Homo sapiens: one gene and its partner. The protein of the gene in region 2 interacts with the protein of the main gene of each other region in a biochemical or structural test. Each region holds a gene or a part of one and is shown on either strand. Other genes may lie near its edges.

What was found. The genes of interacting proteins can lie anywhere in the genome.
Region 1: the proteins of IL16 (region 2) and RPS6KA1 interact in a test that uses a peptide from one of them, tested with the Homo sapiens proteins (one large-scale study listed by IntAct).

What each region holds. Positions count from the first base shown.
Region 1 is NC_000001.11:26,557,261-26,561,549, forward strand, and holds part of RPS6KA1 (ribosomal protein S6 kinase alpha-1), read left to right. Parts: intron 1-1,546; coding exon 1,547-1,677; intron 1,678-3,465; coding exon 3,466-3,591; intron 3,592-3,784; coding exon 3,785-3,874; intron 3,875-4,244; coding exon 4,245-4,289. UniProt on the Homo sapiens protein: Serine/threonine-protein kinase that acts downstream of ERK (MAPK1/ERK2 and MAPK3/ERK1) signaling and mediates mitogenic and stress-induced activation of the transcription factors CREB1, ETV1/ER81 and NR4A1/NUR77, regulates translation through RPS6 and EIF4B phosphorylation, and mediates cellular proliferation, survival, and differentiation by modulating mTOR signaling and repressing pro-apoptotic function of BAD and DAPK1.
Region 2 is NC_000015.10:81,297,016-81,302,095, reverse strand, and holds part of IL16 (pro-interleukin-16), read right to left. Parts: coding exon 5,018-5,080; intron 2,793-5,017; coding exon of another isoform or gene 2,749-2,792; exon of another isoform or gene 2,717-2,748; coding exon 1,621-2,716; intron 753-1,620; coding exon 584-752; intron 1-583. UniProt on the Homo sapiens protein: Interleukin-16 stimulates a migratory response in CD4+ lymphocytes, monocytes, and eosinophils. Primes CD4+ T-cells for IL-2 and IL-15 responsiveness. Also induces T-lymphocyte expression of interleukin 2 receptor. Ligand for CD4.

The sequences.
Region 1 (4,289 bases), on a different chromosome or scaffold from region 2:
CTGTCTCACTCCGCCCGACTCTCTCACTATGGGGCTCTGTGGGTCTCTTTGTGTCTGGTGAGAGAGTGGGAGTGGGGATGTGTGGGTGGTGAAGGCCACAGTAGAAAAGCCAGGACCCCTGCCCGGGGCACCTTCCAGCCCACTGGGAAGACCAAACACATCAGGCTTACCATCACGTCAGGGAGAAAGAATCTGACCCAGCCACACTGTGTGGTGGCTGAGCAGAGGTGACAGTGCCCATAGGTCAGGGACAGGCATGGGAATCAGCTTTGGCTGCCCTGACTGCCCGGCCTCCGTGTACTTATCTGGAACAAGGGCACAGCCACAAACCCACTCATTCCCTGGGGTTGCTACAAGAAGCCAGTGAGGGAGCTTCTGGGAAGGAACCTGGTGAATCCTAACTTTTTGGCCAGATATTGACAGTGGGTGTGGGGTGGAATGTTCTGGGAAACCTCCTATAAGGGCATGTTTTAGGAGAGGGTGTGCTTTTCTTCTCTCCTCTCCTCCCCTCCCCTCTCCTCCCCTCCCCTCCCCTCCCCTCCCCTCCCCTTCCCTCTCCTTCCCTTCCCTCTCCTCTCCTCTTTTCAAGATGGAGTCTCGCTCTGTTGCCCAGGCTGGAATGCAATGGCGTGATCTCAGCTTACTGCAACCTCCACCTCCTGGGTTCAAGAGATTCTCCTGCCTCAGCCTCCCGAGTAGCTGGGATTACAGGCATGTGTCAGCACGCCTGGCTAATTTTTGTATTTTTAGTAGAGACGGGGTTTCACCATGTTGGCCAGGCTGGTCTCGAACTCCTGACCTCAGGTGATCCACAAGGGGGTGCTTTTCTCACTGCACTTGCACGCCTCTGATGACAGAGACAGCACTTCTCCAAGCAGTCCGCTGGGCAACGTGACAAGTGCAGCTTCGTAGGAGTCAGGGGCCGGAGGAGCAGCATCAGGCAAGGCTTCTCAGAGGAGGGAGCGTGCGAGTTGAGTCTTGAAGGATAGGCAAGGAGTGGATTATCTAGTTAAAGGGAACAGTGTGTGCAAGGGCTCAGAGACCCCTCTAAGGATCTGAGAAGTCCAACATGGCTCAGCTGTGGTATGGAGAGAGAGGAGGTGAGGATCACAGGGCCCTCAATTGCCAGACTCAGGAGCTGGACTTACTCCTGAAGGCAGACGGGAACCTTTGAAAGGTGTGGGCAGGGTGGCAGATTTGTGGTTGGAACCTTCCCTCTGGCTGCTGTGCAGAGATGGACCTGAAGGGGCTGACGTAAGATGGGGAAGCTGGGGAGGAAGCATCCAGGAAGGGATGAACTGTCTTGGCCTGGGATGGAGGTGGATGTGAGAGTCTTTTTTGTTCCTCATGCGACAGGACTGGGCTGGTCTAATAAACACATATGAGCAGTTGGGCCAAGGCCTGTGATGGACAGGCCCTCTGCAGGCTCCCGCCACGGCCAGCCCCTGAGGCAGGTCTGGAGGCCCTGTGCTCCCCCTTTGCTGGGCTGCCTCAGGGTCGAGGGGACCTCCTCAGGTACCCTCACATTCTCCTTCCATCCGTACAGATTCCCCAGGCATCCCCCCCAGCGCTGGGGCCCATCAGCTGTTCCGGGGCTTCAGCTTCGTGGCCACCGGCCTGATGGAAGACGACGGCAAGCCTCGTGCCCCGCAGGCACCCCTGCACTCGGTGGTACAGGTGAGGGGGGCAGGGGGCTGCTGCTCCATTATCCTTTTCTAAAGAATGGCTGAGTACACAGGCTCTGAGTTGGACAGAACCAGGTTCATACCCTCATGCCACTGTGGGACCAGTAGGGCCTCCAACATAAAACAGGGACAGTAAGGCCCACCTCACACAGTGGCCCTGATAATTGGATGATGATATGGGTGTACATTTCCCAGCACAGAGCCAGGGTCTGGGTACATGTCAGGAGGTGCCCAGGGTGGTGGTGCCGAGTGACTGTCGTGTCTCCGGCATAAGTGTAGCGAAGGACTTGGATCTCATCACACTTGTTCCCCATTTGTACACTTCTACTGCTAATGAAAGTTTCAGGTTGAGAGGCAAGAATGTAGACTGTGGAGCTCATTGCATGGGTTCCAGATTCACAAGATAATGGACTTTGGGGTTTTTTGTTTGTTTGTTTTTGAGACGTAGTCTTGCTCTGTTGCCCAGGCTGGAGTGCAGTGGCACAATCTCAGCTCACTACAGCCTCCACCTCCCAGGTTCAAAAAATTCTCCTGCCTCAGTCTCCCGAATAGCTGGGACTACAGATATACACCACCACACCCAGCTAATTTTTTTTTTTTTTTTTTGTATTTTTAGTAGAGACGGGGTTTTACCATGTTGGCTAGGCTGGTGTCAAACTCCTGACCTCAAGTGATCCGCCCACCTCAGCCTCCCAAGGTGCTGAGATTACAGACATGAGCACCTGACCAGATAATGGACTTTGGATGAGATACTCCCTTCCTCGTGCCTCAGTTTCCTCATCTGTAAATGGGGGAAATGATAGAAGCTTCCTCCATAGAGCTGTTATGAGGATTATTAGAGTTAATACATGTAAAGTTCATGTGGGCTGGGCACGGTGGCTCATGCCTGTAATCCCAGCACTTTGGGAGGCCAAGAAGGGTGGATTGCTTGAGGCCAGGAATTTAAACAGACCCATCTGGCCAACATGGCGAAACCCCGTCTCTAAAAATACAAAAATCAGCTGGGCGTGTTGGCGCGTGCCTATAGTCCCAGCTACTTGGGAGGCAGAGGTTGCAGTGAGCTGAGAACGTACCACTGCACTCCAGCCTGGGCAACAGCGTAAGACTCTGTCTCAAAAAATAAATAAATAAAATAAAAAATAAAGTTAAGGTGACTATGTAATTTATTTTCCAAACTGGGACATCTTAGTCCAGGACAAATATTAAATCAGACTGGATGCAAGGACCGCATGCGCAAGCCAGGGCTGGCCGTGGGGCATGCAGTCACCTGATGAAAGTGCTTAGAATAGTGCCTGGCACACAGCACACACTAAGCACCATTCAGCATTGCTACGGCTAATGTCCCAGAACCTTGAGACACCCCATGAGTTGAGCTGTGACACCCCAGAAAGGGAGGCAGGCCACTCAAAGCCGTACTTAGTGGCACAGCTGGAACTCAGCTCAGGGCTCCTGCGTCCCTCCCAGGCCTGCCCAGACTTTTCAGAACTAAAGTCCTCTCCATGTGTGTTGTGACCCTGTTTCCCACTCCCTACACTGCCCTCTGACCACAGGCTGCAGTCCAGGCAGGCTGGGAGCCAGTGAGTATGCCCATTATATAGAGTAGAAAACTGAGGCCCAGAGAGGGGCAGGCTGTCACCTGCGGTCACATGGCCAACACTCTACCCCAAGTCTCCTGGCCCTTCCCTGGTGCTGTCTCTACTGAGCCAAGACCTTAGGTCCTGGGGGATGACCCCTAGCACTCTAGAGCCAGGGGTCAGCCACAATTTTTGGTCTCCTACAGCAACTCCATGGGAAGAACCTGGTTTTTAGTGACGGCTACGTGGTAAAGGAGACAATTGGTGTGGGCTCCTACTCTGAGTGCAAGCGCTGTGTCCACAAGGCCACCAACATGGAGTATGCTGTCAAGGTGGGCCTCCTGACCACGTCTCGGCCAAGGCTGCTGGGTTGGGGGCAGGTCCCCGTCTGGTGGGGAGGGATGGTGCCTGAGCTCTGCAGATGTATGAAAGGTGTGTGGCCGAGACCTCCTGGCCTGCTCCATGGCCAGAAAGGACCCTGGACCCTGTCACCCTGACACTGCCACATGCACCCCCTTTCTTCAGGTCATTGATAAGAGCAAGCGGGATCCTTCAGAAGAGATTGAGATTCTTCTGCGGTATGGCCAGCACCCCAACATCATCACTCTGAAAGATGTGAGTGGGGGTCCTTAAGACTGGGGTGGGGACCAGGAACTCAACTCTCAGGATTTGTCTCAGGATTGCCATTCCTTTGACTTCTCATCCTCTTTCCAGTGGTCATGTGGAGGGGAAGGAGGTCCCTTGGTCCCTTCAGTCTGCCCATACCCCAAGGGCCCTCCTTCAGACTCAGACATTTTCTGAGGACCTTCTTGCGTATCAGGAGACCAGTGTCAGCATCCTCCTTTTGGGGAAGGCAGGACCACTGAAGAGCAAGCAGAACACCTGCCCAAGGCTCATGTCATTCTTCCCTGCTCTGGGGCGCTGCTGACCAGGGGGCTCAGGCCTGACACTGGGGAGAAGAGCCTGATGGTGAGGTCTTCGGCAGGTGTATGATGATGGCAAACACGTGTACCTGGTGACAGAGCTGATG
Region 2 (5,080 bases):
AGCTCATTTGACTGCTGGCCCCAGCTCAGCCTGGCCACTTCCTCCCCACACCCCTTTGGGTCATGCTCAGAAAACATATGGGAAGTGAGACTTTCAGAATGACTTGACTGAAGCGTGGGGGACTTGTGAGCCCTGGGATCAGCCACCTCTCCATGCACAGTGGAAATAATGAAAGCTCCAGGTGAGAGCTCTTGTAACCCACATTGTTTACAATGGACAGCATCCCACAACAGACACATGCCAGGACAGCAGCACATGGAATGTGGAAACAGCACTGAACTTGAACTTGGAGACAGAAAACCCAGGTTCTGTAACCTTGATTGAGCCTTACCTTTCTCATTTATAAAATGACAAAAGAAGATGCAAGAAGTCAATCTACTGAAAGTGGTTCACAAGCTAAAAGGCTCTCTTCAAATGGAAGGTCTTACTGTGGTCAAGTGCTACAGTGTCCCACCATCACAGGACGCAACCTGGGTCTGATGTGAGCAGGCTACTCAAGCTACTTCCCCTCTGGCCCAACTAAGGTGGCCACACAGCCATAATAAGCCATTGGTTACTGCAGATGCTTACAAAGGAAACCTACCTTTAATGTTGCTTCATCCAGAACCTTCACCTCCTCGATGAGTTTTTTTAATTCTTCTGAGCTCAGCAGGGAGATAACGGACTGACCAGACTGAAGGGAACTGTGGTCCCCATCATCGTCTTCCTTGGCTTCCGTGAGACCCTCTGTATATTCTCTCAGCTCTGAAAGGCTTTCATAAGGAGAAACAACACACAGTATGAACAACAATATTAAAAAGAGGTAACAGTGATTGTATAATTACTATGTCCCAGGTGTGGTGCCAAGCACTTATGTGCATATTATTTGATGCAACAAATCTATGAGTAGATACTAGCATACCTTCACTCTACAGATATTTCCCAGCAGTGTAAGAATAATAAATAAAACTAATAAATGCAGAGCTACTTTGATCAGAGGGAAGACCAAGCCCCAGCCCTACAGCAGGGACCCTATGGCACGTCTGACATCCTCTTGGTTCTGCATAGAAGGTCTCATCCATCTCCTAATTTCAACTGACAAGGAATCTGAGGGTGAGCATGGAAAGAACCTGCTCATAGTCAGAATCAGTGCCTAAGCTGAGACTAGGACCCAGACATCCTAACTCCCTGACGAGGGAGTTGAACCCACGTGCAGAGTACAAGTGGATTCCATTTGGAGAGTAAGAATTCCTGATGGATAATTTCCTGGCCTCATTCTGGTCTTTCTGAGTAACCGCAGGACATTTCAGATGTGCATCAACCTTCCAAATCTCCACAGGCGTATGTCAGCCCTCATGAGCAATTCACCAGGGAGCCAGTCCCACCTCCTACCTCCCAGCCCTCCTGAAGCCAGATGTTGTGAAAACTCCTCCTTAATGTGAAAGGCAGAGGTGTAATACCTACAGACAGACACACACACACTCAGACATCTGCACACACATGGAAAGAAAGAGGCAGAACAATTCTTTAATCAATATATCTGGGAATTTTTTAAATTATATATAGGATTATTTTTAAAAATAAAGATGAGAAAGAAAAAGATGAGAAAGGTAAAGAGAAACACCGGGTGTAGAAACTCACTTGAGCGAGAACCCTGTGTCCAAGGCAGATGTTTCAGCAGAACCATTTGCAGCTGAGTCTTCGTTGGATGATGATGTTGGAGATGCCCCTTCCTTGGGGATGCAGGGAGTCTGGGCACAGGAGATAGAAGATGGAAGGCACAGCAAGGATTTCATGACAGCCGATGACACTTGGCTGCTGATAGAATAGAGTTTGCTGGTCTTTTCGTCAAGTAGCTTCGTCTCACAGGACTGGGACCTGGTCAGGGGGAAGCTCCGTGCTCGCTGGCTAGGCATCTTGAGCACTGGGCCTTGAGATTCCTCAGCCTGTGTTGACAGCAGCCTTAGGAGCGGGTCCGGGCCAGGGGGGAGAGTTTTCTGATTGGGCTGCCGCCCTGGGGGAGGGGACTCAGACACACCTGGGTCTCTGGCCTCGGAGGCTGCAGGGGACCCCGAGGACAGTACTTGCTCAGGCTGCTGGGGCACAAGAGTGGGTGCAGCCCCTCGCCCCAAGAGTCCAGAAAACCGTCCTTCCTCATGCTTCCCAAGAGGTTTTGCTGCCTCCCCAGAGGAGGGCTGGAGGCTCAGTCTCTGGGCTCCTTTGTCAGGCAGTTGAGAGGAGCCAAAGGTTTCAAAGGAGCTGATTCTCTGCCTGATGGAGGAGGAGGAGGAGGAGGCCCGGATGTGTGATCCTAGGTGCTCCCTGGAAGCAGGTGCTGGCTGGGTGGACAAGGCAGGATCAGGGAGCCCTCTTGGGTCTGAAGCACGATTCCTCAAACCTTTCAAGCTTTGGCGAAACCAGGCTGGCTTGGGAGCCACAGGAGGACCTTTCTTCACAGTGCTGCTGTCTGCTGACTTGTAAACTTTGGGAGTGCCATTGGCGGTGTCCAGCTTTGGTGGGGTCCCATCTGGGTGGCCCTGTGTCCCTTCTTCTTCATTCAGGCTGGCATTGGGCTGTAGAGGCATGTGGCCATGGTTCTCACTCATGATGGGGCTAAATAAGTTTTTGATGCAGTCAGAAATCCTAACCCAAGGGTCTTCGGCTGTGGTATCAAAGCTATAGTCCATCCGAGCCTGCCTCTTAAGCAGTGGGTGTTTTATCGGGGATGTTTGGGTCACTACAGTGCAGAAACAAGGCCAAAGCTGTGCATTACATCATACAGTGACTTTTCTTCCTAAATTCTAGTTTCCAAGCTGAACAGCAAGAAGGATTCAAGAGGAGGAGATTAGCAGAAGTGGGGGACACCCAGGTGGGTGAACTCCAGGTGCTATTACCTGACTGAGCTGCCAACAGGCAGGAGTGAAGGACCAGAAGTAGGAGTTAATCTCACAGTATCCTAGTGTTTTAGGCCTGGAAGGGTGCTCAGAGAATATCTGGGCCGACCTCTGGCATATTACATTTCAAGAAGGGTAAGGGGCCATCTGATGGCAGTGCTCAGGCAAGACCCTGTGTCTCCTGACTCTTGAAGTTCATGTCCTTTCTACTGCACTAAGGAGCCTCCAAGATACCATGTTAAATGTGTAAAAGCCAAAGCAGTTCTCCTGCCGTTTAAACTTTTAAGACAAAGGTCATGAGTTGGCAGCTGTTTGTGCTTTGACCTACCCGTGTCATTAAAAACAAGGTGCCTGTGCACAGCTTCTGATGGGGCCACTTCGGCTTCCCACAGCTCTTCACGCTCCCTCTCACCCAGCCAGCATTTCCCATGTATGTACCTGCCTGGCCCTGAAGCCGTGTGTTTGCTGCTCTGCCTATACACAGGTCATTGATCAGCTTGCTCTCGGCAAAGGAGTGTTTTCCCTCCCTCAAAAGCTGATGAAAAGGTTCCAGGTAGAAAGGAATCTGTGAAGTAGGATTCTCCACCTTGGCTACATACTGGAATCTGGAGGGCCCTGAAAAATACTGACGCCCACCCCTAGGTACTGACTGAAGATACCTGGGATGCAGCCTGGGTGTTGGGAATGTGATGAGCAGGGGATTGCAATGTGCAACCTGCTCTGTGCCAGCCAGGACCTCAGGCATGCCCTGGAGCACATAGGAGTCTTTCTCAGAAGCCAGCATTGAACCAGCATCATATCTGCATGGGTAAGGGAGAGGGTGTCCTGGCTCTCTTTCCCAGGGGCAGAGGGAGGCTGGCCTGTGTGCCTTGGGGGATGCTTGCTACTGGAACGCAACCCAGTTGAAGGAACTCTGATCCCTCCTGTCCCTTGTCTCAATGCCAGGTTTCAAAAGAAGTGAATCATGGAGCATTACACCTTGATGATATCAAAGAGAAATTCTGCACAATCTAAGAGACTGGCCTTGGGCAAGTGAGCCCAGGCCTCCAGCCTGTTTCTGCATTTTTGAATGGCTTGGCTGTAAGGTGCTGTTGTGAGAATCAGGAGGCAGAGGTTCCACAGGCAAGCCCTTTGCAGATTGGAGTGACAACCTCCTGTCAGTTAAACACTGAGGCGTTTGCTTTTGCTAGAATGTTCCTCAATTAGGGTGACTAAGGGAGAGGAGCCTCCACCCACAGGGCCTCTGCTCTGGGTGAGATGTGCTAGATCTTTCCAAAATGTCCCTTAGCCCTCCAAAAGTCTTTCATGAGCTTTTCTGTAGTGTTACTCAAACAGTCATATGTTTTATAGTCTATATGTTTATTTCCTGCCACTACTAGTTGCTCCTTGGAGGCAGGACCTGACTACCTGGTCTCATCCCTTTCTCTCTCTCCCCCCAGCATCTAGCACAGGGCCTCACGAAGCCAGCATTCAATGTGTGCTTGCTGAATGCATCATATGCTTGGGGTCTACGTGCTCTTCCACACATTGCTGATGAGTGAATCTGGGCTCAGAAAGGCAAAGTAGGTTGCTCAGAATCATACTAATGACAGACAGATCCAGGATTCCCTGACTTCAAGTCCTATGCTCTCTCTAGCAAGCAAATAAATATTCAAGTCATGTCTTAGCATTGTCAGGTGTACCATGTGGACACACCCTTGCTATCCACCTCATGGAGGAGGTGACCACTGGTAGATGCTATTTATACTTTTCTGGCGTTGCATTCTCTGACTCAGAAATCCTGAATGCAGCAGGACTGTTGCAACTGGAATGTTGGCACCCTAGAGGTAGCTGCCCAGGATGGCTGGGTGGGTGTGTCTTTGGACCTCTTCCAAGGGCTCCATCCTCCCAATTATCCAGAATGGCCTGCATTCCTGCTGCCACCCCCACAGCATCACCCGTCCACCCAGGAGGCTCCCCACCCTGGACAGCACCTCCACGGTGCTGCTGCCCAGCACCTGGAACCCTTGACTGTTGATCAGCCAGGTCCAGTGGTGATGTCAATGCAGAGCACTCTGATCCTCAGGCCAATTTGTGCTCTTATCTTATCCCTGCACCTTTTTTCAAAAGACCCTTCCTTTTGGAAGATCTCAATGAAAGCTTACCTGGGCTGGCTCTTCTCCACCCTGGCTCGCCCTCTGTGGAGGACTTGGTCTGTGGGCCGATAC